Homo sapiens: one gene and its partners. The protein of the gene in region 1 interacts with the protein of each later gene in a biochemical or structural test. Each region holds a gene or a part of one and is shown in the gene's direction. Other genes may lie near its edges.

What was found.
Region 2: the proteins of TJP1 (region 1) and SMCHD1 interact in a test that uses a peptide from one of them, tested with the Homo sapiens proteins (one large-scale study listed by IntAct).
Region 3: the proteins of TJP1 (region 1) and SLC22A3 interact in a test that uses a peptide from one of them, tested with the Homo sapiens proteins (one large-scale study listed by IntAct).
Region 4: the proteins of TJP1 (region 1) and CACNA1D interact in a test that uses a peptide from one of them, tested with the Homo sapiens proteins (one large-scale study listed by IntAct).
Region 5: the proteins of TJP1 (region 1) and GYPC interact in a test that uses a peptide from one of them, tested with the Homo sapiens proteins (one large-scale study listed by IntAct).
Region 6: the proteins of TJP1 (region 1) and PODXL interact in a test that uses a peptide from one of them, tested with the Homo sapiens proteins (one large-scale study listed by IntAct).
Region 7: the proteins of TJP1 (region 1) and NET1 interact in a test that uses a peptide from one of them, tested with the Homo sapiens proteins (one large-scale study listed by IntAct).

What each region holds. Positions count from the first base shown.
Region 1 is NC_000015.10:29,714,469-29,717,968, reverse strand, and holds part of TJP1 (tight junction protein 1), read left to right. Parts: intron 1-1,130; coding exon 1,131-1,358; intron 1,359-3,500. UniProt on the Homo sapiens protein: TJP1, TJP2, and TJP3 are closely related scaffolding proteins that link tight junction (TJ) transmembrane proteins such as claudins, junctional adhesion molecules, and occludin to the actin cytoskeleton.
Region 2 is NC_000018.10:2,697,226-2,700,725, forward strand, and holds part of SMCHD1 (structural maintenance of chromosomes flexible hinge domain-containing protein 1), read left to right. Parts: intron 1-605; coding exon 606-816; intron 817-3,313; coding exon 3,314-3,434; intron 3,435-3,500. UniProt on the Homo sapiens protein: Non-canonical member of the structural maintenance of chromosomes (SMC) protein family that plays a key role in epigenetic silencing by regulating chromatin architecture.
Region 3 is NC_000006.12:160,449,378-160,453,077, forward strand, and holds the end of SLC22A3 (solute carrier family 22 member 3), read left to right. Parts: intron 1-1,618; coding exon 1,619-1,679; 3' UTR 1,680-3,200; downstream 3,201-3,700.
Region 4 is NC_000003.12:53,809,111-53,812,610, forward strand, and holds part of CACNA1D (voltage-dependent L-type calcium channel subunit alpha-1D), read left to right. Parts: intron 1-867; coding exon 868-1,188; intron 1,189-2,002; coding exon 2,003-2,296; 3' UTR 2,297-3,500. UniProt on the Homo sapiens protein: Voltage-sensitive calcium channels (VSCC) mediate the entry of calcium ions into excitable cells and are also involved in a variety of calcium-dependent processes, including muscle contraction, hormone or neurotransmitter release, gene expression, cell motility, cell division and cell death.
Region 5 is NC_000002.12:126,690,658-126,694,157, forward strand, and holds part of GYPC (glycophorin-C), read left to right. Parts: intron 1-3,206; coding exon 3,207-3,290; intron 3,291-3,500. UniProt on the Homo sapiens protein: This protein is a minor sialoglycoprotein in human erythrocyte membranes. The blood group Gerbich antigens and receptors for Plasmodium falciparum merozoites are most likely located within the extracellular domain.
Region 6 is NC_000007.14:131,546,629-131,550,128, reverse strand, and holds part of PODXL (podocalyxin isoform 1 precursor), read left to right. Parts: intron 1-3,500. UniProt on the Homo sapiens protein: Involved in the regulation of both adhesion and cell morphology and cancer progression. Functions as an anti-adhesive molecule that maintains an open filtration pathway between neighboring foot processes in the podocyte by charge repulsion.
Region 7 is NC_000010.11:5,426,057-5,429,556, forward strand, and holds part of NET1 (neuroepithelial cell-transforming gene 1 protein), read left to right. Parts: intron 1-598; coding exon 599-665; intron 666-3,113; coding exon 3,114-3,173; intron 3,174-3,500. UniProt on the Homo sapiens protein: Acts as a guanine nucleotide exchange factor (GEF) for RhoA GTPase. May be involved in activation of the SAPK/JNK pathway Stimulates genotoxic stress-induced RHOB activity in breast cancer cells leading to their cell death.

The sequences.
Region 1 (3,500 bases):
TCTTAGTCAATAAGAAAACCTTTTACTGTGTTAGTAGAGGAGAGGTGTGAATAGGAGGAGTTTGTCCTTAAATAAAAACTATCAGCTCTCCTAAACAGTGATTCTAGGGGGAAAAAAAGTAGAACTTTATTTCTGACAAATCTGACAAATCTTTATACCTTTAGCAGACTTTCGGAAAGATATTCTCCAAGCAGATGATTAAATAAACATTTTTAAGCTCTGACATTTGTATTATGTTTTTTAGTTTTAAAAGTGCTTTTCGACATGTGAACTCTTAGTTTCCAGTGGTGAGGAAACAGACTCAGATTGGTTAAGATAACTAAATCATTTAGTGAGCATGCATAAGGTGCTTGCCCTTGTGCTAAGCACATCAGCATAATGAGGTGACACTGTTGTTGTTCTGCATTGTAGAGAGAGACACTGAGGCTGAGAGGGGCAAGTAGCTTACAAGACTTAGAGCTGGAAGAGAAACCTGGCCTGCTGCTCCTCAGCCTGAGCTTTTTCCCATGGCCTCATTGCACTGCCAATAAGTGACAGATTAGATTTGAATACAGCTCTTCTGATTTTGTTTTTTGACTGAATATATGTTTGCACTTAGGATAAAGAAGAGAACTGTCTAATATGAATTTACTTAATGACTTGCTTTCTTCCTCATCTGCTTTGTATGCCTTCTAGAACTTTAGACCATATAGAGTTATTTGTTCATATGAGAATCATTGAGATCCTGGACTGAGTTCTTAAAAATCCCTTTGAAAGTTCTTAAAGTCTATCATTTACTGTTCTTGACCTTGGTATATGTACTTCTCAAGATGTTCACTGTCTCGGTTACATTGCCCTTTGTCTTTCTGATTAACTACTTCTAACCTGCTGTTCCCTAATCATGTAATCGTTTAGCTTATTATATTGTGTTAAAGGACTCATGAGCCAGAAGGGGGCTGCCTTTTGAGTATACTCTGTGAGGACATGGGATTTGAAATATCCATTTTAACTGTTGGGACTGCTCAGATCCTCAGTAATCACAGCAGTTAGTAATTATTGACCTTTTAGTCAAGATAAGACTTACATATTCTACTTCCTTCATAACATTAATATTTAAAAAGGTGTTCCGTTTGTCATTCATTATCTGTTAGGATCCCAGAACCTCAAAAACCTCAACTGAAGCCACCTGAAGATATTGTTCGGTCCAATCATTATGACCCTGAAGAAGATGAAGAATATTATCGAAAACAGCTGTCATACTTTGACCGAAGAAGTTTTGAGAATAAGCCTCCTGCACACATTGCCGCCAGCCATCTCTCCGAGCCTGCAAAGCCAGCGCATTCTCAGAATCAATCAAATTTTTCTAGTTATTCTTCAAAGTAAGCTATTTCACCTGGCTTTTAAAAATAGGATGCAGCATATTAATCCCGTGCAGTTCAATATATTTTGAAGAAAAATAATTTAAGTGTAATATATGATTTCTGTAGGCTCTAGTGGTTCAGCATTGTACATACTTTTTAGTTCTGGGATGTGTGTTTTGTTTTTAAAGTCTGCTATTAGATGTACATAGTTTTTGCATTCACAAAGATGCTAACATCACAGGGTTTTGACGGAAGACAGTGTCAACCACAAGGACCCTCATCGATAGGTAATCATCAGTCTTCACTTCTGTACACACACCTAATGATGTCATGCTGGTTCTTTTTCTTTTCTGTTTTTATTTTTTAAATATAAATACAGATGTGAGGAGGATCCTGTTTGAGGGAAATACTGAAGAGGTTTTTTGTTTTTTGTTTTTGTAAGATTTCTGATCCAGTTTTACAGGTGAGGGAAAATGACAGGGCAGAGCTGGGACTGAACCCCAAGTTTCTTGACTCCCAGTCATCTTTTCCCTGTGCTTGCTGCTCCCCTCCGTTTACTCATCCCTGGGTTTCGTGTTGGTTTGTTCTCCTTTCTTGTGCCTGCGTGGGTTTGTGTCTCCTACTGGTTCTGTGTCTCTGGTTGAACCCTGACTGATAAGAGAATTTGGTACTGATAGTTGTGTCTAAGCCCACACGGGCACACAGGTAGATTCATACCTCAATAGAACAAAACCCACAAGAACAAAAACAGATGTGGATTTGTCAAAAGAAATTCATTTACACAGTTACAGGGGCTGGCTAAGCAAGTCCTATTTCAGAGGGCAGTTGGTCAGGAAGGGAAGATTTTGAGCTACTGGGGAGTGTGAGATCAGGGAAGGCCTAAATTCTCATTCAGAGGGCTCTGCTGATTAGGCCAGGCCCTCCCAAGACCATCTCCCCTCAACTGACTTGGGGACATTACACCTGAAAAATCCCTTCATGGCAGTACCTAGCCAGATTGACATATTAGAATTCATCACACATAGTATTGTGTCTATATTAAAAGCACCTAGATTTTTCCTTACTTAGTTGCGTGGGCTTGGGATTATCTTGGGAAATGACCTATTTGTCATTTACTATTGAGTGTAAATTGTTTTAGAACATACTTTAAAACCACTAACATTAAAACCTAATTTTAATTACCACTGCTTTTTTCTAAGACATCCTTTGTAGTGAAGACTTTTTTCACTGTCCTATATTTAAGGCTTTATGTTTACAGAAGAAAGCAGTTTATGAGAATCCAAATGCAAACTGAGAGTGCTGCAGTGGGGGTTGTATTAAATGCAAAACGTGTCTTGTACTAGTGTTGTGAACCACCCCTTAGCACAACACTAGAAAGGGGTTGTGGCATCTAGATGGTGTCTGGACTGAAGTGAGCTAGCACAATATAAACCCACACAGGTGCACAGCTGGGTTCATACCTCAACAGAACAAAACCCACAAGAACAAAAACAGATGTGGATTTGTCATTAGGAATTCATTTACATTTACAGTGTTACAGGAATTCATTTACACAGTTATCACAGTAACATCTAAATGGTGACTAGCCTAAAGTGAGCTAGGCACTGAGCCATAGGAGCTCACCTTTGGTAAGGCAGAAGGGTGTACCCTTTAGTTATTATTTTTACTAAACACCGTTAAACACATTCATTCCTGTCAGAAGAAGGCTCAGGTGTTTAGTTTAAAGATATCTCTTATTTATCGTTTTACATATTTGGTAAATAGAATACAACCTTAAAAAGATTATATGGCCAGGCGCAGTGGCTCGTGCCTGTAATCCCAGCACTTTGGGAGACCAAGGCAGGCTGATCATGAGGTCAGGAGATCGAGACCATCCTGGCTAACACGATGAAACCCCATCTCTACTAAAAATACAAAAAAATCAGCGGGGCGTGGTGGCGGGCTCCTATAGTCCCAGCTACTCGGGAGACTGAGGCAGGAGAATGGCGTGAACCCGGGAGACAGAGCTTGCAGTGAGCCGAGATCGTGCCACTGGACTCCAGCTTGGGCAACAGAGTGAGACTCTGTCTCAAAAAAAAAAAAAAAAAAAAAGGCTGGGCGCAGTGGCTCACGCCTGTACTCCCAGCACTTTGGGAGGCCGAGGTGGGTGGATCATGAGGT
Region 2 (3,500 bases), on another chromosome or scaffold:
CTCTCCTTGTTTTTTACCAAACTACTTTCATTGTTTGATATCCAACTAAAGAGATTATTCCTAGATGTATTTTTCTCAAACCTTTATTTACTGTAGGCTTGGTTTATCTTTTTTTGTCTCTCTTCTGTGGAGCTATGCATTGTTACTGAACATCAATCATCTCTTGAAGCATGGAGGAAAAGGGAGATAATGTAGCTTTCCTTTTGTTTGTAGAAGTTATATCGTGGTGACAAGGTTTAGCAGCACAGAGCATTTGAGTATTGGATTCTCAATCCTCTAACCCACACGTTAGAATTTCACATACGATGTTGTCCCACTTCCTACCTCTAGCAAGAAACCTCGAATTAAATGTACTCATGACTTTTCTGTCCTTCAGCTCTGATTTGCTGTTTCTTTGCTTACTTTATATTTTTTAGTAGTATGTTCCTTATTGAGATGCTACTTAAAGCTGTTTAACTCATATGTAAATATATGTATTTCATTAAGCCAGATTGTTACTTGTACAAATAAACATAATTTTTACTTATTCTGTTGTTGAATCATAGCTGAGAACAAAAGTAAAGTTACCATAGAATTTAATTATTTTTGTTTCCTTTTTATTTTAGATTTCTATGTTTGAAAAAGGGAAGGTACCTAAGATTGTCAACCTAAGGGAAATACAAGACGACATGCAGACGTTGTATGTAAACACAGCAGCTGATAGTTTTGAATTCAAAGCTCATGTTGAAGGAGATGGTGTAGTGGAAGGGATTATCCGTTATCATCCATTCTTATATGATAGAGAAACTTACCCTGATGATCCATGCTTTCCATCAAGTATGTTAATCTGTTATCTTAGTTATAAAATATGAAGTTGTAATTTAGGACAGTGATTTGTTTTTCTAAATGATTATCGGTTGGGTTATTCAGGTTAGATAAATATTAAATTTTTTCTTATGCAAGTCTTAGATTGTTAGGTATTTGTAATTTTTGTAATTCCTGATTTTTGTGTACATTCATTTCTAGATGAATAAATCTTTAATGAACTCTTCTTTTAGTTCTGTTACGAAACCAAACTTTTAGATATGTATGCGTATTAATCCTTTATATGTTCCCTTGTCTTCTCTTTATCCTTGTTGCAGTTTTACACTTTATGCAGTCATATTTACTAACTTTTTCTTTATGCTTTCTGATTTTGTCTTACTGTAGAAAGGCTTTTTACATCTCAAAATTATATAAATCTGTAGCTTTTTTGTTTTTGTTGTCATTTTATGGTCAATGCATCTGTGTTTTTCTTTTTTGTATGTAGAGCAAGGTGGGGTTTTATTTATTTATTTAAATTTTTGAGTGATGGGGTCTTGCCGTGTTGCCCAGGCTGGTCTTAAGATCCTGGCCTGAAACAATCCTCCTGCCTTGGCCTCCCAAAGTACTAGGATTACAGGTGTGAGCCACCACACCTGGCCCCCACCTTTTTTTCCCCCCCCAGTAGAGAGATAGGGATTTAACAATTATTTTCTATGTGGTATTCATATTCAGTTTCTTAGCACCAGTTATTGAATGTTATAATTTACCCAAGAGTTAGAACTTGTATAATACAAAGTTCCCATAAGTACATAGGTCTAGATTCTTTACTATAAAGTACTATTTTATTTTTTTTTAATATGAGTAATGATACTGTCTTGTAGCTTTATCTTGTAATTTGGTATCTTTGGGAAAAAACATTTTCACTATTGTTCCTTTTTGAGAATACTTTTGCTCTTCTAGATAATTTTGGAATCAGCTTTGTACATTCACTTGAAGTAATTCTAGTGAGATTATTGGGATTGCATTGAATTTATAGGTTAACAATATTAAACTTTTTCATTCAGAATACTTCCTTAGTACATTCTTGGTTTTCTAGGGCCTGCAACCAGAGATCCTGATTCGAATCCCATCTTTGCCACTTTCTGTTGGACAAACTACTCCCTGCCTTAGTTTCCTTACCTGGGAAATGGGTAGTTCACACCTCATAGGGGTGTTGTGAAGATCAAATTTAAAAACTGGGGCAACTTCTCAGAATAGTGCTCAACACTATTTATTAAGTGCTCCTGCCCAGTACATATTGTTACTCAGTGGCTCCACTGGCCTTTTTGGTTTTGTTTTTTATTTTTTGGAGACAAAAGTCTTGCGTTGCCACACACGCTGGAGTGCAGTGACACAATGTAGGCTCACTGCAGTCTCTGCCTCCCAGGTTCAAGCAATTCTCATGGATCAGCCTCCTGAGTAACTGGGACTACAGGTGCCCACCACCATGCCAGGCTAATTTTTTGTATTTTATTAGAGACAAGGTTTTGTCATGTTGCCAAGGGTAGTCTCAAACTTCTGAGCTCAGGTAATCCTCCCACCTCAGCTTCCCAAAGTGCTAGGATTACAGGCGTAAGCCCCTGTGCCTGGCCATCTCTGACCTCTTAAATTTGCTGTTTCCAATTTTTGTGTGCTAATAGACAAAAAGATATAATTTTTTTCAAATGCTGCCTTAAAAAGAAGAGCAAGTAAGTTGAGTGATCAATCAGAGGGATTCTCCTCTAAGAGCAAAGTGATTTTGTTTGATTGAAAGCAGCTTTTATATAAGGGACTTCTTGTGAGGGCTTTTAGGGAGAAGGTTTTGTTTTAGGTGGGTAAACTAATTCCAGGGTAGCTGAGGTGTTAATATGTCAGGATCACATTGTTTAATCCTAATTTATCTGGATACACGAGAGTGTGTTGCTAATAAACATAAGATTATAGACAATTGTGCAAATTAATGCTCTTGATGCATAGTAACATGTCTTACAGTTCTGTGTACATTTTTCATGCTTACTTGAATCTGAAAATAATTTCTAAAAAGTAAACTTAATTTTAGCATCATTCACTAATTTGTTCAAACTAGGTAAACTCGCTGCTATTAGATGTCATAGATTTCTCAGATGACTTTCATGTGAACATACTAGTTCTGATAAAATTGTGAAACTGTTTTAGATACGGGATTTAAGCTCCTATATTTGTAGGAAGGAGGGATTTTGTTATAGGGGATAATCTTTTTGGATGTAAGACTCTTTTAGCCTCATGAATAGGTTTTAAAGATGACAGGCCCAGCAGCTAGTACATTGGTTCATATATAAGTAATTATTGACTTCTAAATGACAGACAGCATTCGTAATGTGGAACCACTTTGTAAACCTACCTTTTTGTGGGCAAACAGTATAAAACTACCTTTAGGTTTTATAGAATGCAATTTGAAACATTTATGTGTTTGTTTCATTATTTCTCACATTTTAGCAATAAACATTTTGTTCCATTTGCCCTTTTGATCTAGAATTAAAAGATGAAGATGATGAAGATGATTGTTTCATACTTGAGAAAGCAGCTAGAGGGAAAAGGCCTATTTTTGAATGTTTTTGGAATGGACGATTAATACCATATACATCAGTTGAAGAGTAAGTTTGATTTTTGCTGAAATTATGTTTTTACAACTTAATTCTTTTACTAACTAACATTTTGTT
Region 3 (3,700 bases), on another chromosome or scaffold:
ATTTTTCATAATGAAAAGTTGGGTACATTAATTAATTATACCTAGTCTCTATACATGAAAAAAAATATAGTAGAAGTATGGTTTACAGTGCTACAATTTAAGCACATTAATTGTGATCCATGGTTATTTACTCTACAAAAATTACTTAGTGCTAAATTACTAAAACTTGCTAGCATTTCCCTTTTAAAAATCACACTGGATTATTTTATCGTTTCTGCTGGTTTTTGTTCATGTTAACAGCTCATTTCCAAATATATGTTAATTCAGTAGAAGTTCATAAAGAACTTAAATGCTATAATGCTAACAAACCCCTGTATCAGAGGAACCAGCCCCCAATATTTCAGCATAGGTTCTATTTTCCATAAGTGTTGGCCAGCTGAGAAATAAAAAGAGTACAAAGAGAGGAATTTTACAGCTGGGCCGCTGGGGGTGACATCACATATCGGTAGGACTGTGATGCCCACCTGAGCCTTAAAGCCAGCAAGTTTTTATTAAGGGTTTCAAAAGGGGAGGGGGTGTAAGAACAGGGAGTAGGTACAAAGATCACATGCTTCAAAGGGCAAAAAGGAGAACAAAGATCACAAGGCAAAGGGCAAAAACAAACATCACAAGACAAAGAGCAAAAGCAGAATGACTGAAAAGGGTCTATGTTCAGCGGTGCATGTATTGTCTTGATAAACATCTTAAACAACAGAAAACAGGGTTCTAGAGCAGAGAACTGGTCTGACCTCAAATTTACCAGGGCGGGGTTTCCCAATCCTAGTAAGCCTGAGGGTACTGCAGGAGGCCAGGGTGTATTTCAGTCCTTATCTCAACCGCATAAGGCAGACTCTCCCAGTGCGACTGTTTATAGACCTCCCCCTAGGAACGCATTCCTTTCCCAGGGTCTTAATTATTAATATTCCTTGCTAGGAAAAGACTTCAGCAATATCTTCCCTACTTGCACATCCATTTATAGGCTCTCTGCAAGAAGAAAAATATGGCTGTATTCTGCCCGATCCCACAAGCAGTCAGACCTTATGGTTGTCTTCTCTTGTTCCCTGAAAATCGCTGTTACTCTGTTCTATTTCAAGGTGCACTGATTTCATATTGTTCAAACACACATGTTTTATAATCAATTTGTACAGTTAACACAGTAGTGGTCCTGAGGGACATACATCCTCAGCTTACAAAGATAACAGGATTAAGAGATTAAGGTAAGAGATGCATAAGAAATTATAAAAGTATTAATTTTGGGAACTGATAAATGTCCATATTAAAATGAAATATTCACAATTTATGTTCAGAGATTGAAGTAAAGACAGGCATAAGAAATTATAAAAGTATTAATTTGGGGAACTGATAAATGTCCATATCAAAATGAAATCTTCACAATTTATATTCCTCTGCTGTGGCTCCAGCTGGTCCCTCCATTCAGGGTCCTTGACTTCCTGCAACACCCCTAAGGTCTGAACACAGACAAAAAATGATCCTGGAGACAGATATTGTTGTTACCTTAGAGTTGGGTTTTCATGAATGTATTTGATCAAAACCAGCTATACTATTAAATAATAACAGAACACCCTCTTCTAACTAGTTACATAATCTTTCCTAAAGACTTTCTCCTTTGTTTTTTCAGTCCACATTCCTGTAAATGTGGCAGGAATAAGAAAACCCCAGTTTCCCGCTCTCACCTTTGAGGCCCCCGACAAAGACAGAAAGAAGGAGCTATCCAGGAGCTGATCCTCCTTGCAAAGCTGTGCCTTGCAGAGATGCACGTGTGCATTTCAGCTACATCATGCCGCGCTGTTGTAATACTGTATAAAGACCTCAATCTATCCAGAGTATTTTTATATAATGTTGGATGAGTTAGGATTTGTAATGCTGTTGAAGTTTCTGGGAACACATAATATGTAGCCAGTTTAACAAAGAAGCTGTCAGGTGCACAGCCCTTCCTGGGTTTTTTTCTTGTGTTCCCTGTGGTCTCTGACCCATTAGGCTAAAGAGAGACAAGAGAAGCCCCCAACCTGATTCTCATGACAGCTCCATCAAGAATGTGGGATGTGCCGACCAAGGATTTGAGAAAGTTGTACAGAAATGTGTTCATCAAATCTGGTCAAGGGACTAAGCTCCTAGCTGACCATTCATTCTGAAGATTGCATGGAGGATGAACATCTGGGAATCCTGTTAATGAGAAGGCTGAATCACAGGCACCTGGGCCAAAGGGTGTGAGCATTCATGTTCTCTGCTCACCTTGGTTTCCGCACACCTTCGCAATGTGAACAGGTCAGGAGTCCCTCCCGTCCACCTCCTCTGTAACAGCTGGGGTTCCAGGCATGGTTTAGGCCCTGTTCCAGCAATAAGAACCAATCTGCTGTACAATCTGAGGACTTGGCTCTGTTATTTACAAAATGATGCTGTGGTTCTGAGATTATTTGGGACATTTTTGGCTCTCCTTTAGTGGACACCTAGAGCCACAGATTCCCTTCTTTACTAAACAAATCCCATGGATTCTGATTTCTGGGTCTTAGGATTTTAAAAGTGAAGGGATATTTTTCTTATATTTGTGAGTTCAGTTCCGATGGTGCCCGTGGTCAAAAGCGAAAAACATGGACAATTCCTATTCATTCTTAGCACTTTGACATGTCTTGGGGAAAAGCTTACATTTTAATTTAAAAGAAAGATCAATTATATCCATGCTTAACAGGATCAGCAGGAGCTTTATAAATGACTTTACAGAGACTAATAAGGGATTTGATCTTTCTTTTTTTGTTATCGAGGCTTTTGAAATGTGGAACTTGTGTGTTCTGCTTTATATGTTATATTCAATATCTTTTCAGATGCAGTCTATATTTTATGCTGAGTTTTAAAAATGAAATACTTTATGCAAACAGGCAAAATTGGTACCAAAGGGAAACATTAACCATGAGGAAGAGCATTTTTCTAAGGAGAACAGGTGACAATATACACATGTGCGCTAATCGTAAAATGAGCATCTTAGTCTTTAAAACACATCAGAATTGAATACGAATAATCTATTTGTCGATGAAATAAACACAACTCTTTGAGGATTTGAGACTACATTCACCCTTTATTCACAGTCACTTGCAGTTTTGCTTTTCTCTGCATTTCTCTGCTGTAAGATGACTGTTGCATTGTTGAATTGTATTTTGAGTGGATATTTTTGTTTGGTAACAATTAAAATTTTAAATCGTAAAAAATGTACATTTGCCCTTTCTCTTCCTTCTAAACATGTGTCTCTCCCACAGGTCATTCTCCTGTGACACGTGTACTGCAGAGTGTTTCAAAACCGGGCAGGCAATTAGCAATGGGAAATAAGTGGTCCACCTTCAATATTTGCTTGTTGTTCATTTACATGCTCTTGGCACCAATCCTAGACTCACGTGTGCCCCAGAATAACATTCAGACTCTCAGCTGGTCTTGTGTTACACATCCATGGACCGGTTCACTCCATCATATACAGCTCTCTGCTCCGTGTCCCCTGGGCTCAAGTCAAGCAGTCGGTGACAGATTTCATTCCCAATAACAGAATCGGTTTGCATGACTCCCCATACATGTTGCAGCTTTGAAAACATTCATCTCAGAGTTAGGTATAAAGACATAAAAATGTGTGTCAAGCCCTCGTTAGCTGATGAGGTAAATGCATGGACAACTTCCTAGGACTTCTCGGCTCTGCCCTCTGTGACCTTGCAGCCTGCTC
Region 4 (3,500 bases), on another chromosome or scaffold:
TGATTCTGAACAAGCGGTGCAGCCCTTCATTTTCTCTAAGAAGTGGTTCCTTCATTAAGTTTATGGGTCCCTCCATGGGCAGGGCCCTGTGGGTACTATGCAGGGTTAACCTCCCCTGCCTACAAAGGGAGCAGTCTGGGGAGAACAGTTTGCCCACGTTGAGGGCGGCTGCACAGGCAAGAGGGTGGGGCCGGAGCCCACTCACTAGGGCTTTCCCTCAAGGATAACAATATGGCGCTTTTTCTTTCTGAAAATATCACATCAGAGATGCCATTCATTCGTGCACGACAGGGTGGTGGGCATGGACCTGTGCTGTTTACAGACAGCGTTCCCCGTCCCTCTCTGCAGAGTGTGAACCCCAAGGTGCATCTGCCGTGGTGGGATTGTAAGACCGGGGCTTGTACCCAGTGCTTTAGCACATGCCAAATGCCGGCTCTAGGATGCATTACTCCAGAGCAAAGAGAACCAGCTGTTTTCCTATAAGTGCTGGGAAGTGGTAGTTTCCCCTGAATGTACTTCGGTATTTAAACCCAGCATGAACTGGGTGGTGTGTTCACACCCACAGCTTGTTGGGCTTCCCTGATTCTTCATTCTGAAGCAATTTCATGAATTAGCAACTGATACCTCCTTGGGAAAAGCCAAAGGAAATGCATTATGGATTCGGGGTAAAAGAAAGCACAGTCTGCTAGAAAACAAAGTCATCACCGCCCATTCATTCAGCGTACTTCAGTGTGCCCATGTCCTTTCCAAGTCCTTGCCTGGACTGCCCCTGGCGAGCGCAGCGCCGGTGCTTGGTCTGTGCGCAGAAGGTTTGAGGCCCGGACCTCTGAGAACCTCTGGTCTCCCAACAGTCCCCTCTTTCCTCAGATCATGGCAGTTGCCGGCCTAGATTCAAGTAAAGCCCAGAAGTACTCACCGAGTCACTCGACCCGGTCGTGGGCCACCCCTCCAGCAACCCCTCCCTACCGGGACTGGACACCGTGCTACACCCCCCTGATCCAAGTGGAGCAGTCAGAGGCCCTGGACCAGGTGAACGGCAGCCTGCCGTCCCTGCACCGCAGCTCCTGGTACACAGACGAGCCCGACATCTCCTACCGGACTTTCACACCAGCCAGCCTGACTGTCCCCAGCAGCTTCCGGAACAAAAACAGCGACAAGCAGAGGAGTGCGGACAGCTTGGTGGAGGCAGTGAGTACGGTTCTTGGCCGTGGTGGGCAGGAAGCACCAGGAGCAGCAGAGGTGCAACTGTAACAGCAGGAAGGGCAGTGGTGGGAGGGCGGCCAGGCTGTGAGCTAGGCTGCCTCAATCAGACACTTCTGAGCAGCAGGAATGTACCTGAAGCATGAGTAAAAACTGGTCACCACCACTGGCTGCAGTGGCTTACGTCTGTAATCTCAGCACTTTGGGAGGCCGAGGCGGGTGGATCACCTGAGGTCAGCGGCTCAAAGACCAGCCTTGCCAACATGGTGAAACCCCGTCTCTACTAAAAATACAAAAATTAGCCGGGCGTGGTGGTGTATGCCTGTAATCCCAGCTACTCAGGAGGCTGCAGCAGGAGAACTGCTTGAACCCGGGAGGTGGAGGCTGCAGTGAGCCGAGATCACACCACTGCACTCCAGCCTGGGCCACAGAGCGAGACTCTTGTCTCAAAAAAAAAAAAAAAAAAAAAAAAAAAACAAAAACTGGTCACCACCGTCAATTCTCATAAATGAGCTGTGCTGGCATTATGGGTGCTGTTCCGGCATATGTTTCTAGTTTATACTAAATGTCTTTCCCCAGTGGGTTTCACTCTTGTTGGGCCATGTGTAGTTTTTTAGCTCCAGGACATTTTCAAAGCCATTTACACTAGTTATTATGTATGAGGTCTAGAAAACATGATTGAGCTGCATCCCCAAAGCACACGGTGCAGTTAAGTTAGCACTGGAGTTGATTTTTCTGTCGTCCCCCTGCCCTGCAAAGCCTTATAACACCCCCATGCCATCCATCCCTCTTTTCTGTACAGGTCCTGATATCCGAAGGCTTGGGACGCTATGCAAGGGACCCAAAATTTGTGTCAGCAACAAAACACGAAATCGCTGATGCCTGTGACCTCACCATCGACGAGATGGAGAGTGCAGCCAGCACCCTGCTTAATGGGAACGTGCGTCCCCGAGCCAACGGGGATGTGGGCCCCCTCTCACACCGGCAGGACTATGAGCTACAGGACTTTGGTCCTGGCTACAGCGACGAAGAGCCAGACCCTGGGAGGGATGAGGAGGACCTGGCGGATGAAATGATATGCATCACCACCTTGTAGCCCCCAGCGAGGGGCAGACTGGCTCTGGCCTCAGGTGGGGCGCAGGAGAGCCAGGGGAAAAGTGCCTCATAGTTAGGAAAGTTTAGGCACTAGTTGGGAGTAATATTCAATTAATTAGACTTTTGTATAAGAGATGTCATGCCTCAAGAAAGCCATAAACCTGGTAGGAACAGGTCCCAAGCGGTTGAGCCTGGCAGAGTACCATGCGCTCGGCCCCAGCTGCAGGAAACAGCAGGCCCCGCCCTCTCACAGAGGATGGGTGAGGAGGCCAGACCTGCCCTGCCCCATTGTCCAGATGGGCACTGCTGTGGAGTCTGCTTCTCCCATGTACCAGGGCACCAGGCCCACCCAACTGAAGGCATGGCGGCGGGGTGCAGGGGAAAGTTAAAGGTGATGACGATCATCACACCTGTGTCGTTACCTCAGCCATCGGTCTAGCATATCAGTCACTGGGCCCAACATATCCATTTTTAAACCCTTTCCCCCAAATACACTGCGTCCTGGTTCCTGTTTAGCTGTTCTGAAATACGGTGTGTAAGTAAGTCAGAACCCAGCTACCAGTGATTATTGCGAGGGCAATGGGACCTCATAAATAAGGTTTTCTGTGATGTGACGCCAGTTTACATAAGAGAATATCACTCCGATGGTCGGTTTCTGACTGTCACGCTAAGGGCAACTGTAAACTGGAATAATAATGCACTCGCAACCAGGTAAACTTAGATACACTAGTTTGTTTAAAATTATAGATTTACTGTACATGACTTGTAATATACTATAATTTGTATTTGTAAAGAGATGGTCTATATTTTGTAATTACTGTATTGTATTTGAACTGCAGCAATATCCATGGGTCCTAATAATTGTAGTTCCCCACTAAAATCTAGAAATTATTAGTATTTTTACTCGGGCTATCCAGAAGTAGAAGAAATAGAGCCAATTCTCATTTATTCAGCGAAAATCCTCTGGGGTTAAAATTTTAAGTTTGAAAGAACTTGACACTACAGAAATTTTTCTAAAATATTTTGAGTCACTATAAACCTATCATCTTTCCACAAGATATACCAGATGACTATTTGCAGTCTTTTCTTTGGGCAAGAGTTCCATGATTTTGATACTGTACCTTTGGATCCACCATGGGTTGCAACTGTCTTTGGTTTTGTTTGTTTGACTTGAACCACCCTCTGGTAAGTAAGTAAGTGAATTA
Region 5 (3,500 bases), on another chromosome or scaffold:
GAGATGAGGGTAGACTGACCAGGCTACTTAGACTTCTCCACCGTCTCCCTCATCCCACATTATTTTCTTCCCTGGGTCCATGACCCCCAACCCTCCATCCTCAAGGAAACTTGAGCCTGCCTTTGCCTTGCTTTGAACCCTGAGCAACGGGCTCCCCATGGGTCATGGCTGTGACTGCAAACTGTGTTTGAAGAACAACCAAGTTTGGGAGGTGCTGTGTGCTCTGCGACCTTCTTTGAGATCCACACTTCTCAGCAGCTTATTAATAACTCAGGAAACATCTACAATTTGAAAAGAAAGAAAAAGCAGCAGAAGCAAGCAATCAAAGACACCTGTTGGACTCTGTGTAACCTGGCATTCTCCAACTCATTGCACCACTGAGCTTTTATTCTTCCTAGGTGATATTATTAACATTATGCAGATACAAGTGTTCCCCTGAAGGCAGTAGGAAGTTTAGGAAATTGTTCTATAAAGGTGGGACTTGGGAGCAGTTTCAGACTTTCCATATTCTTCAGCAGTCCCTCCCCAAGGCCTCCAAATAAACCTGCATTCTAAGAAAAGACAGAGGCTTGCTCTGCAGCTTCAAAGTAAATGCCCAAACTCAAAACACCCCCACCCCATGAGACTGCTGCCCCCTCACTCTCAAGGTCCTGAGTGATCTGACCCCTCCTGAGCAGCCTTACACTGTACTTCCCCACCCCTCTGGAGTCCCAGCAGAAGTGAGGGGTGACTGCCCCTCGCACAGCCAACACCTTGGCATTCTCTGCGTTACCCTCTCCCACTTCAGTCCTTTGTGTGGCCAAGTCCTGCTCCTCCTGCAGACTCACCCCAGTCCTCAATCGCCAGGAGGGAATGGGAGCAGGGTAGGCTGAGGAGCAGTCATCGGGCCATTGAAAAACACAAACCACACAACCTGCCCCAAGCACAGTTAATAGCCTCATTTTTCCCCCTGTATAGTGTACATACAGCAACCAGCTCTGCCCTGTTTTCTGGGACTTCCCTGGTTTTAGAATGAATAATCTCCAAGCAGTGTTCTTGCAACTGTTGCAAGGACCATGTTAAATTGCTTTAAATGTTGAGACCTGCACCTGGCACCTAGTAAGCGATTGTTAGTTGTTTTAAAGGAAGAGGAAATAACAGTCTCTTCTAACGCTGATTGTGTTGGACAAACTGTCCTAATAAATGCTGTCTTCACCTGGAAAATTTCTGAGGGCAGTTCTGGGTATTTGAGCTTCTATAACCATCCATGCCTACTTAAGCAAGGTGTTATTCTTTCTTTCTGAACTTTGAGGTGCTTGTTGATTGGAAAAGTCTAGAACCCCACCACTAAATCCATTCATTTATATATGCATGCATTTACTCATGCATTCAGTGAATATTTATTGAGTACCTACTATGTGCTAGATACTAAACTGGAGGCTGCACTTGTTCACTCTATATAATAAAGTCTAGCACCCACTTGAACTTGCTACGGCCCTTGCTTCAGGTCTTGCTACTGAGAAACACCGTGAATGCTGGATCCTATACCCTGCCTGGTTCCTGGCTCCCGAGACCCAGATCCTGAGCCAGTGTTCACTGGGTCCCTGGGCTGCCTCAGTGCCTTGTATTATCTTCTTCCCCACCTCCAAGCTCCTTGGTGGCCCCAGACACCCCTAGCTTGGCCCATCTGTGTCCTGCTGTGGACCCCTAGCTGGGAGTCTGTTTTCCCCTCACCCATTATGACTCCTGACTCCAGCAGGCAGTTACTTATAAGAAAGAGGCATCTGGCAGCTGCACTGGGGAGAATGACCTCATAGCACTATAATTAAAGTGATTATCTGAGTGGAAATGACTATTATGAAGCATCCTTCTCTGTTTTATTATGTAGAGCCATTGTAATGGGAACGTGGGATTTCCTATGTTAACACTGATATTTCTGTGATCCAATAAATCCTTCTTCACAATCATCTCCCAGAGGAGAGAAGGCATTCTGTGCAGCAGCTCTAGGAAACATCCCGGTCCCCAATGTCCTAGACATCCTACCCTCTTTGGCCAGGTCATTAAGCTGTGAAAAAACACACTCAGTAACTTGGATAGTGTCATAGAGTGGTCCTTCCCACAGCAGAGTCAATGTAAAGACCTATGGGAGGGCTTCAGGAATGACTCCTCAGACAGGAGCCCTGGGAAGGGCTTCTCCAAGAGAGAAAGTGCACTCCAGAGGCAAGAGCACTGGCCAAGTCCTGACCTGATATCGGATGAGCTGTGTGATCAAGGGCACATCACGTCTCTGAACCTTGGTGTTCTTCCTGTGAGATGGGCCATTAACACCAGGCACCTCATAGGATGGATGTGAAGACTGCATGATAGAGTAGATAGAAGGCAGTTAAAGCAACACCTGGTGCTATGGTTTGGATGTGGTTTGACCCTGCAAAAGCTCATGTTGAAATCTGATTCCCAAGGTGGCAGTGATGGGAGGTGGGACCTAGTGGGAGATATTTGAGTCACAGGGGCAGATCCCTCATGCATACATTAATACCCCCTTGAGGGAGGGAGGGAGTTCTAGCTGTCGTGAGACTGGATTAGTCACTGGAGAGCAGGTTGTTATAAAAGCAAATTCAGCTTTCTAAACTCTCTTGCTTTCTATATCACCTTGTGGTCTCTTTGCGAATGTCAGATCCCCTTCTGCTTTTTGCCATGAGTGGGAGTAGTATGAGGCCCTCACCAGATGCAGCTGCCCAATTTGGACTTCCCAGCCACTAGAACTGTGAGCCAAATAAACCTCTCTTCTTTATAAATTACCCAAGTATTCAGCTATAGCAACACAAAATGGACTGAGACACCTGGTGTGAGCATCAGACACTCCACAAACATTCTTTCTTAAACACAACAAGAGTCCCTGCCTTCATACACAGCACAGATATCTGTTGAGCATCTACCACGTGCAGCACCACTCTCAGTGCAGGCATTAGGCAGATAACTCAAATGGGCCTGGAGTGACCTGGTGGTTCAGGTTCAAACAGTTCCATCCCAGTCAGTGACCAAGCAGAACCTGGTTCCTGGTCTGTGCATCCCTGCTAGGAGCAGTGGGTGCGCCGCACTGCTCCTTTCCACTTGGACCCATTCTCAGAGCTGCTCACACCTGAGCAAAGGATGCAGCTTGGGCCAAGGTGCTGCTAGGCATGGAGAATCTTCCTCTCTGACCTCAGATTCTTGTCCTCTGTTCACAGAGCCTGATCCAGGGATGTCTGGATGGCCGGATGGCAGAATGGAGACCTCCACCCCCACCATAATGGACATTGTCGTCATTGCAGGTGAGCTCTCATCACAGAGCCCTTCAAGCAGCCAGGGTGGGGGGCCTTGGTGAAAACATCCAGGGGAGAACTGACCTAAGGACTTGGGCAGTGGTGGCTGTGGCCATTTTTTCTCTCCCTCAGAGGTGGTTTTGAATGTGGAATGGAGGAGTCTAGCCCTGGGTAAATATATATATACATGCATACATCGTACGTATCTATGTATGTATT
Region 6 (3,500 bases), on another chromosome or scaffold:
CCAAATAGGTGGTTAAGAAATGTTTGCGGGATAATTGGCTGCACAAAATGCAGCGTTCAGCTGCAGATTCATCAGTGGCCCTTGCCCACATCTCCCGCATCCCAAGCTCTTGCATTGTCTCTGAGTCCTGGCCCTGCCCTGAATCGCTGGAGCAGCAGCAAGCACAGACCCTCAGCTAAGAGGGTCCCCCAGCTAAGGTTGGCCCCTGGGCCACCTCCAACCATCCCCACCCCCTTCCCCGACATATATCACCACCACCCTCTCTTCTTTTGTAGCCTTATTCCCCTTGGGAATAAGCCACCTCACACTTCCGAGGACCAGGGTGTAGGGTGGCACCTCGTCCACCAATTGTCATGGCCAGAAGGCTATGTATGTGCCTCCACTCAGGGGGAAGAGAATTCTAAGGAGCGGCTGAGAGAGGCTTGCTATCTGGCCCTGGATTGGGGTGCAGGGACCTCCCAGAGCCAGGCCCCTAGGGATGTGTGGACTGACCTGGGGTCTACGCTGTCTGATTTCTTAACCTTCCAGCTACCTGACCCTGATCAGAGTAGAAGGGACGGCAGTTAAGCAAGCCGGTGAGGAGGGCACTCTGTAATTTTTGAACATACTGGCTGTGTGTGAGGCTGAAGCCACAGCTCCTTCTTACCTGAAATTCATGGAGCTCTGCCTGAGGACTGAGTCCCTTTGGTCTCCATCCAGCCAGGTTCCCATGCCAACCTACTCCCAACACACTGATTGGAACCACAGAGCCCTCCAGCTGGGGTAGCCTGCCTTTGCATGACCTTTATCTCACAGACCATTCCAGAGAGGAGAAACTGAGGCACAGATGCAAGGACTTGCAGTAGATCATACAACCAGCTCTTCTCCCAATATGTACGTGGTTCACTCCCTCACTTCCTTCAGCTCTCCCCATGAATGCCACTTTCTCAAAGAGGCCTACCGGGGCTGCTCTGCTTAGAAACCCCTCCCCCCCAGCACACTCTTTTCCTCCTACTCGCCTTTATTTTCTCCATAGCACTCGTCACCTGATATGTGTTCATTGGTTTGTTTGTTTGTCTGTCTCTTCCCCGTTAGACTGTAAGTTCCATGAGGGCAGGGACTTCCATTGTGCTGTAGCCACAGCACCTAGAATAGCACTTAGCTCAAAGTAGCTGTTCCATAAATATAGGTTGAATGAATGAGTTAGTAAGTGAGTAGGTGTCAGGGCTGGCTTAGAACTTGCCTGCCAGCCTGTGCTCTGTAAATGCAAGGCTACCTGATTCAAGAAAGAGGTGGCAGGTGGGGGCCGGCCTAGGTCCTGGGGGCATATGGGCAGGAAGGAGCAGGGATTCCTGGTAGGAAGCAGGAGGGGGCCATGTCTCCTGTGCTGTCCCCACCCAAAGGATCCTTCAGCTGAGGATTGGGGCTTGTGTTTGTTAGAACTTGATTTGGCTGCTCATAGCAACAAAAAAGAGTAGTGGATTAAATAAGACAGGCATCAGTTATATCTCTCTCATATCATAGAACTTCAGAGGGGTGGTATAGTGGTTCTGCCATCATTCACACGTGGCCTCGTGGTCCAAGGTGGCTGCTGGAGTTCCAGCCATCAGGAAAAAGGAAGGAACAAGAAGCATGTGGCTCCTCTTTAGAGTGTGCCTCCCAGAAACCACATGTGACACTTCTAGTCACATTTTGTTGAACAGAACTTAGCATGTGGTCACACTAGCTGAAAGGCAGGCAGGAAAGAGAACTTAGGGAAGAGTAATTTTTATTTCAGGCACCCAAGTGCCTACCCAAAAAACAGTGGTTCAGTTACAAGGAGGAAGCAGAGAGTGGATATTTGGAGTAGGTGACTGGCAAATGCTACTGCAGAACTGGTCCCTGCAAACCTTGGACGTCTCTGTAGCTGCCCTCTGTCCTCACCTTGCCGGTCAGATCAGCTTCGCCTCTGCACACAGCTCTCAGGAAACACAGCTCTCAGGAAGCCTGGTCCCACTTAGTCCTCCAGTTATGTGGCTGTAGCCTTCTGGTCCTGAGGGGCAGTTTCTGGTAATGCACAAAGAAACCTGGCTCCTTCCTAATTGGGTCTTGAGCTGCAACAGGGATCCGAGGTGTCCCAGGACCCCCATAAGCTGGGCCTTGGGCAGGGTAGGAGGGGAAGGACCTGGGTTCCCCCACTGGCCTGTGGATAGGGAAGAAGTGTTTCTGCTCCCCATCTCTCCCTCTCACCTCAGAGCAGGTGAGTGCAGGGCCAAGGAAATACTGTCTTAGGGGTTTGGCTATGAGCTCTCAGTGACAGCAGCAGCCGGGGGCCAGTGACTTTGAAACCTGCGGGTGGTATTCCGTGGAGCTGCCTTGGGGGCCACTGAGGGCTTGGGGTGCATACCTGGAGAGGAAAATTAAGAGGAGGCCGATTTGGGGGGAGTTTTACGTCCATCCTCTTCACGAAGGCCTACTTTTAACTGTTCCGTATGATAGGTCTCTACGTAAGAATTCCTTTGACAAAAAATTTTGCTGTGATGGTGAAGAGAAGAAAAATGGAAATCTCTGCTGATGCCCTAGACTCTGCAGTTAAGAGGCTTGGATTTTAGCCACAGCTTCGACACTTGTTAGCCTTGTGATCTCAGACTTGTTCCTTGACCTGGGCTTCTCCAGCGGGAAAATAGGTATTGTGCCCTCCTCCATAGCAAGGGCTAAATAGGATCATGTAGGTGGTGCCTCTGATGTGCAGAAAGCATCCACACGTGTTGATTTTTTTTTTTTTTTTTTTTTTTTGAGACGGAGTTTCACTCTTGTTTGTCCAGGCTGGAGTGCAATGGCGCAATCTTGGGTCACCACTACCTCCGCCTCCCGGGTTCAAGTGATTCTCCTGCCCCAGCCTCTGGGGTAGCTGGAATTACAGGCATGCACCACCACGCCCACCTAAGTTTGTATTTTTAGTAGAGACGGGGTTTCTCCTTGTTGGTCAGGCTGGTCTTGAACTCCCAACCTCAGGTGATCCGCCTAATCAGCCTCCCAAAGTGATAGGATTACAGATGTGAGCCACCCGCACCTGGCATGTTGATTTTATTTCTTGTATTGGCGTCAGCCCTAGCCCAGTGTGAGTCAACAGACCCTGTTACCCCACCCCCAACGCCATGCTAGAGCAGCATCCTCTGCGACCTCACAGGGCCAGGTTTTCTTCTTCAAGGCCCTTCCCCATTACTCAGGCTGGGGGCCTCAGTGCGGGGAGGCAGGGTTAGTTGGAGACCGCAGTTTTAGATGAAGGTGGCCAGGGTGGGCTTAGCTAAGAAGCCACTGAGATGGCGCCCCCTGCCTTCCTATTCCTGCCTGGTGCTCCTCAGCTCACCCCTAGGGGGCACTGCCCTTCACTTTGGGGCTTTGAGTCAAAACAGACTTTTTTTTTTTTTTTTTTTTTTTTTTTGAGACAGGGCCTCACTGTGTTGCCCAGGCTGGAGTGCAGTGGCACGATCTCGACTCACTGCAACCTCCGCCTCAGGAGTTCAAGCGATCCTCTCACC
Region 7 (3,500 bases), on another chromosome or scaffold:
AAACACAGAAAAATCTTTTAATAGTAAAGAACAAAATTCTAATCACATTTTAATCTTGAGATCTTTGTCTCAAATGTAGTTATTCATAGCTTTGTATTTTGTTTGTTAAATTGCAGTTTTAAAAAATTAGGGATTTACATGAAATGCAGATAATGTGAAGTTAGGTTTTGTTAAGAGTATCCTTTTATTTTTGTTTTTTAAAATACTATACGTGAATATGTTGCTAAATTTTTTGCACTTAGGAAGTTTGTTTGCTGTTTTTTATTTAACCTATTAATATATTTCATGTTTTTGAACTATATGTATGTTCCTAAGGTAAACTCTGTTGAGTTTGGCAAATTACTTTTTAAAATAATCTGTTCACTAATTTTATATAGGCCTTTTCACTCTAAAGATGCTGAGAATGACCAAAACCTATACCCTGTTTGTTTGTTTTTTATATATATATAGACCATCTCTCATATTACTAAGATTGAATGACAAATCAGGCCACTTTAAACGGTTTTGAAAGTATGAAAAGTATAGCTTTTTATCTGTTTGATGCTCTATTATGCTAAAGTCAATCTCTTTATTTATTGTTTGAATTTTCCATTAATAGATGTTCCCTTCGGAGAGGCAGCTCCTTCACATTCTTAACACCTGGCCCCAACTGGGACTTCACTTTGGTGAGTAGATACCTGGGTTTTTATTTCGAGACATTAGATAGAATTAATTCCCTGGTTTCTTTCAGTCTGTTACACAGATCAGTGGTCCTTACTTCTGAGGGTCTTGAGGAACAGAATTCCTGTAACCATCTTTGGCAGCCTAATTTAGTCCTTTTCTGCTAACAAGCTGTAATAACTTTTTGTTTCAAGTAAATATAAAACATATTTTGCAAAGTACTCACATCTATTAATCTTTAACTCTATGCCATCCTTTCTCTTATTCCTTTCAATGTTAAATCTGATAATATATTATGAAACATGAAATTATTTTTATACATCCTCTACTGCCTTTTTTTCTTGGTTGAAAATATAAAAATGCTTGATTGCACATTGTGTATATATATTTAATATATATAATGAATGATTTTCTGCTATTAATCATCTCAGCATAGAGGGACTCTATTATTTTTATAGCAGGACTTTACAGAGGCATTTAATTTTGTGTGAAGTGATAACAGAAAATTGATTCTTTTTGTACTTAAAACTTATTAGCTCATAATACATATATAAAGTACGTACAAATAGATCATGATTCTTATGCTTATCTAGGAAAAATAGCAAAAGTGATTCAAAATATAATTTCATATAAATGCATAAGTATGATCATATATGTGCTTTTTTCCCCTTAGTACAGTCTAATATTGCTAGGCAGTTTCCTCCCCACTTCTTCTCCTTCTCCATATTAGTCCATTCCCAGGCTCTGCTCTAACCATGTCAACAGTACCATATGTATCCTTCTATATTTTGCTCATATCATTAATATACACAAAGAGGCTCACAGATAAATACACAAGCAGGATTTATGGTTAGTTGGCCTTTCAAACCTGGGATCATATTATTCATAATTTTCTGTATCTTCTGGGTATGACCTTGGGATCAGTAAAATATTTCTTGAGTTCCAACACCTCCATTCTGATATATATTGTTCTTTCATGTCTTAGATCATTTTCCTAATGTCTTTTAGCTCAATTCAAAACAGTGTGTTATAATTTTGCTCTGCTGCTTTGAGCATTTCCTCCTGGTGTGCAGTCATTTCCTAGGGGATAGATTCTGTTCCTTGTTTTCTTTTTTCATAGAATGATATTGTGTAGAATTTGACTTTGAGAATTTTCTGTTCATTTTAGTGTGAATTTAGTTTTCAACTTGTACACAAAATCTTGGTTCAGATAGCTTTTCTGACTTCACAACCCTCCTTCGTGTTGTTTTTTATGGTAGCTTGCTTTCTGAGACTGCCTGGCTCTGTTACTTTCTCCACTTCTATCTGGACTTTGCCGTTCCTTTTTTTTTTTTTTTTTTTTTTTTTTTTTCTTCTCTATTGGCCCTATCTTGTTCAATTTTGATTCAATTCCCAGCAGTTTCTCCTCACTGTGGGGCCAGGAAGTTGACGGGAACCCTAACTAGTCACTTTTTAAGAGTTACCAAGAAGTAAGCTGTGTAGGTAACCTGAAAAGTTATTTTGAGATGTGGGAAAATGAAGTGTTACCCGTGGGTGCTTATTCACTATTAATTAAGTACCAGAAATGGTAGATATGTACACAGTTTTGCCACTACTGGTGCCAGAAGGGCTGAATGAAAGTGATAAATGGTAAGTGGAAAGTACTCCAGGGACATGGCTGTTCACCTTCTAGTTAATCAATCCTGCCTCAGGCAACAAATCTTAATTACTTTGGGCCATGAGAAAAGGATTTTTTTTTTCTAGTGAAGACCTTGCCCCCAAGATAAATAATGTGTTCCTTTTCAAAAAAAAAAAACTAGCTGATTTTATATTTAAAAAATTTTTACTTTTTCTCTAACAAGTACAGACAGCCCTTGATTTACATAAGAGTTCTGTTCTGAAAAACTTAAGTAGTATTTTAATAGGGTAGCCACTTCACAGCAGTGATGACTTAGTCAGGGGAGACTGTTCAGATAGTATCTATTCCAAAGACAATTCATGAGCGTCTCTCCTCAAGATAATTTTCTTTGTTTTTTTTTTTTTTTGAGAGGAAATCTTGCTCTGTCACCCAGGCTGGAGTGCAGTGGCGCAATCTCGGCTCACTGCAGCCTCTGCCTCCCAGGTTCAAACGATTCTCCTGCCTCAGCCTCTTGAGTAGCTGGGACTACAGGTGTGTGTCACCACGCGCAGCTAATTTTTTTTTTTTTTTTGGATTTTTAGTAGAGACAGGGTTTCGCCACGTTGGCCAGGCTGGTCTCGAACTCCTGACCTCAGACGATCCGCCCTCCTCAGCCTCCTAAAGTGCTGAAATTACAGACGTGAGCCACCGCGCCTGGCCTCAAAGTAATTTTCTTGTGACTATAGCCAAAGGCTTAACTTTTTTAAATTGATTTTTCTAGTTTTATAGAGTCTTTGTTTTGTGAGGTAATATGCATTCCTTTTATATGAGAATGAAATCTCTATTTTTCTTTTAGAAAAGAAAACGCAGAGAGAAAGATGATGATGTTGTAAGCCTTAGCAGCCTTGATCTGAAGGTAAGCCCTGCTGCCCTGTTAAAGAAAAGCATTTAAAAATATGCAGATAGCATTTTATTTCTGTGCTGCAAGAATAACAAATGCTGGTTTGGGTTTTTTTGTTTTTTTGTTTTTTGCATTTTGTAAGTGCAAAAGTGAATAATATTAGTTCATAGACACCGTCTTTTTTGCTATTCTACTTCTTTGTTAAGAATGAGGGAGAAACCACTCTCAAAATGTTAGGCTATAACTACTGATCACAAACACAAATGCTAAGGAGACAGGCTGTAATCTGTGCGAAGGAACGAGGTAAGAGAGGGCCGGTGGTGAAAAGGAGAGCCCCAGGTT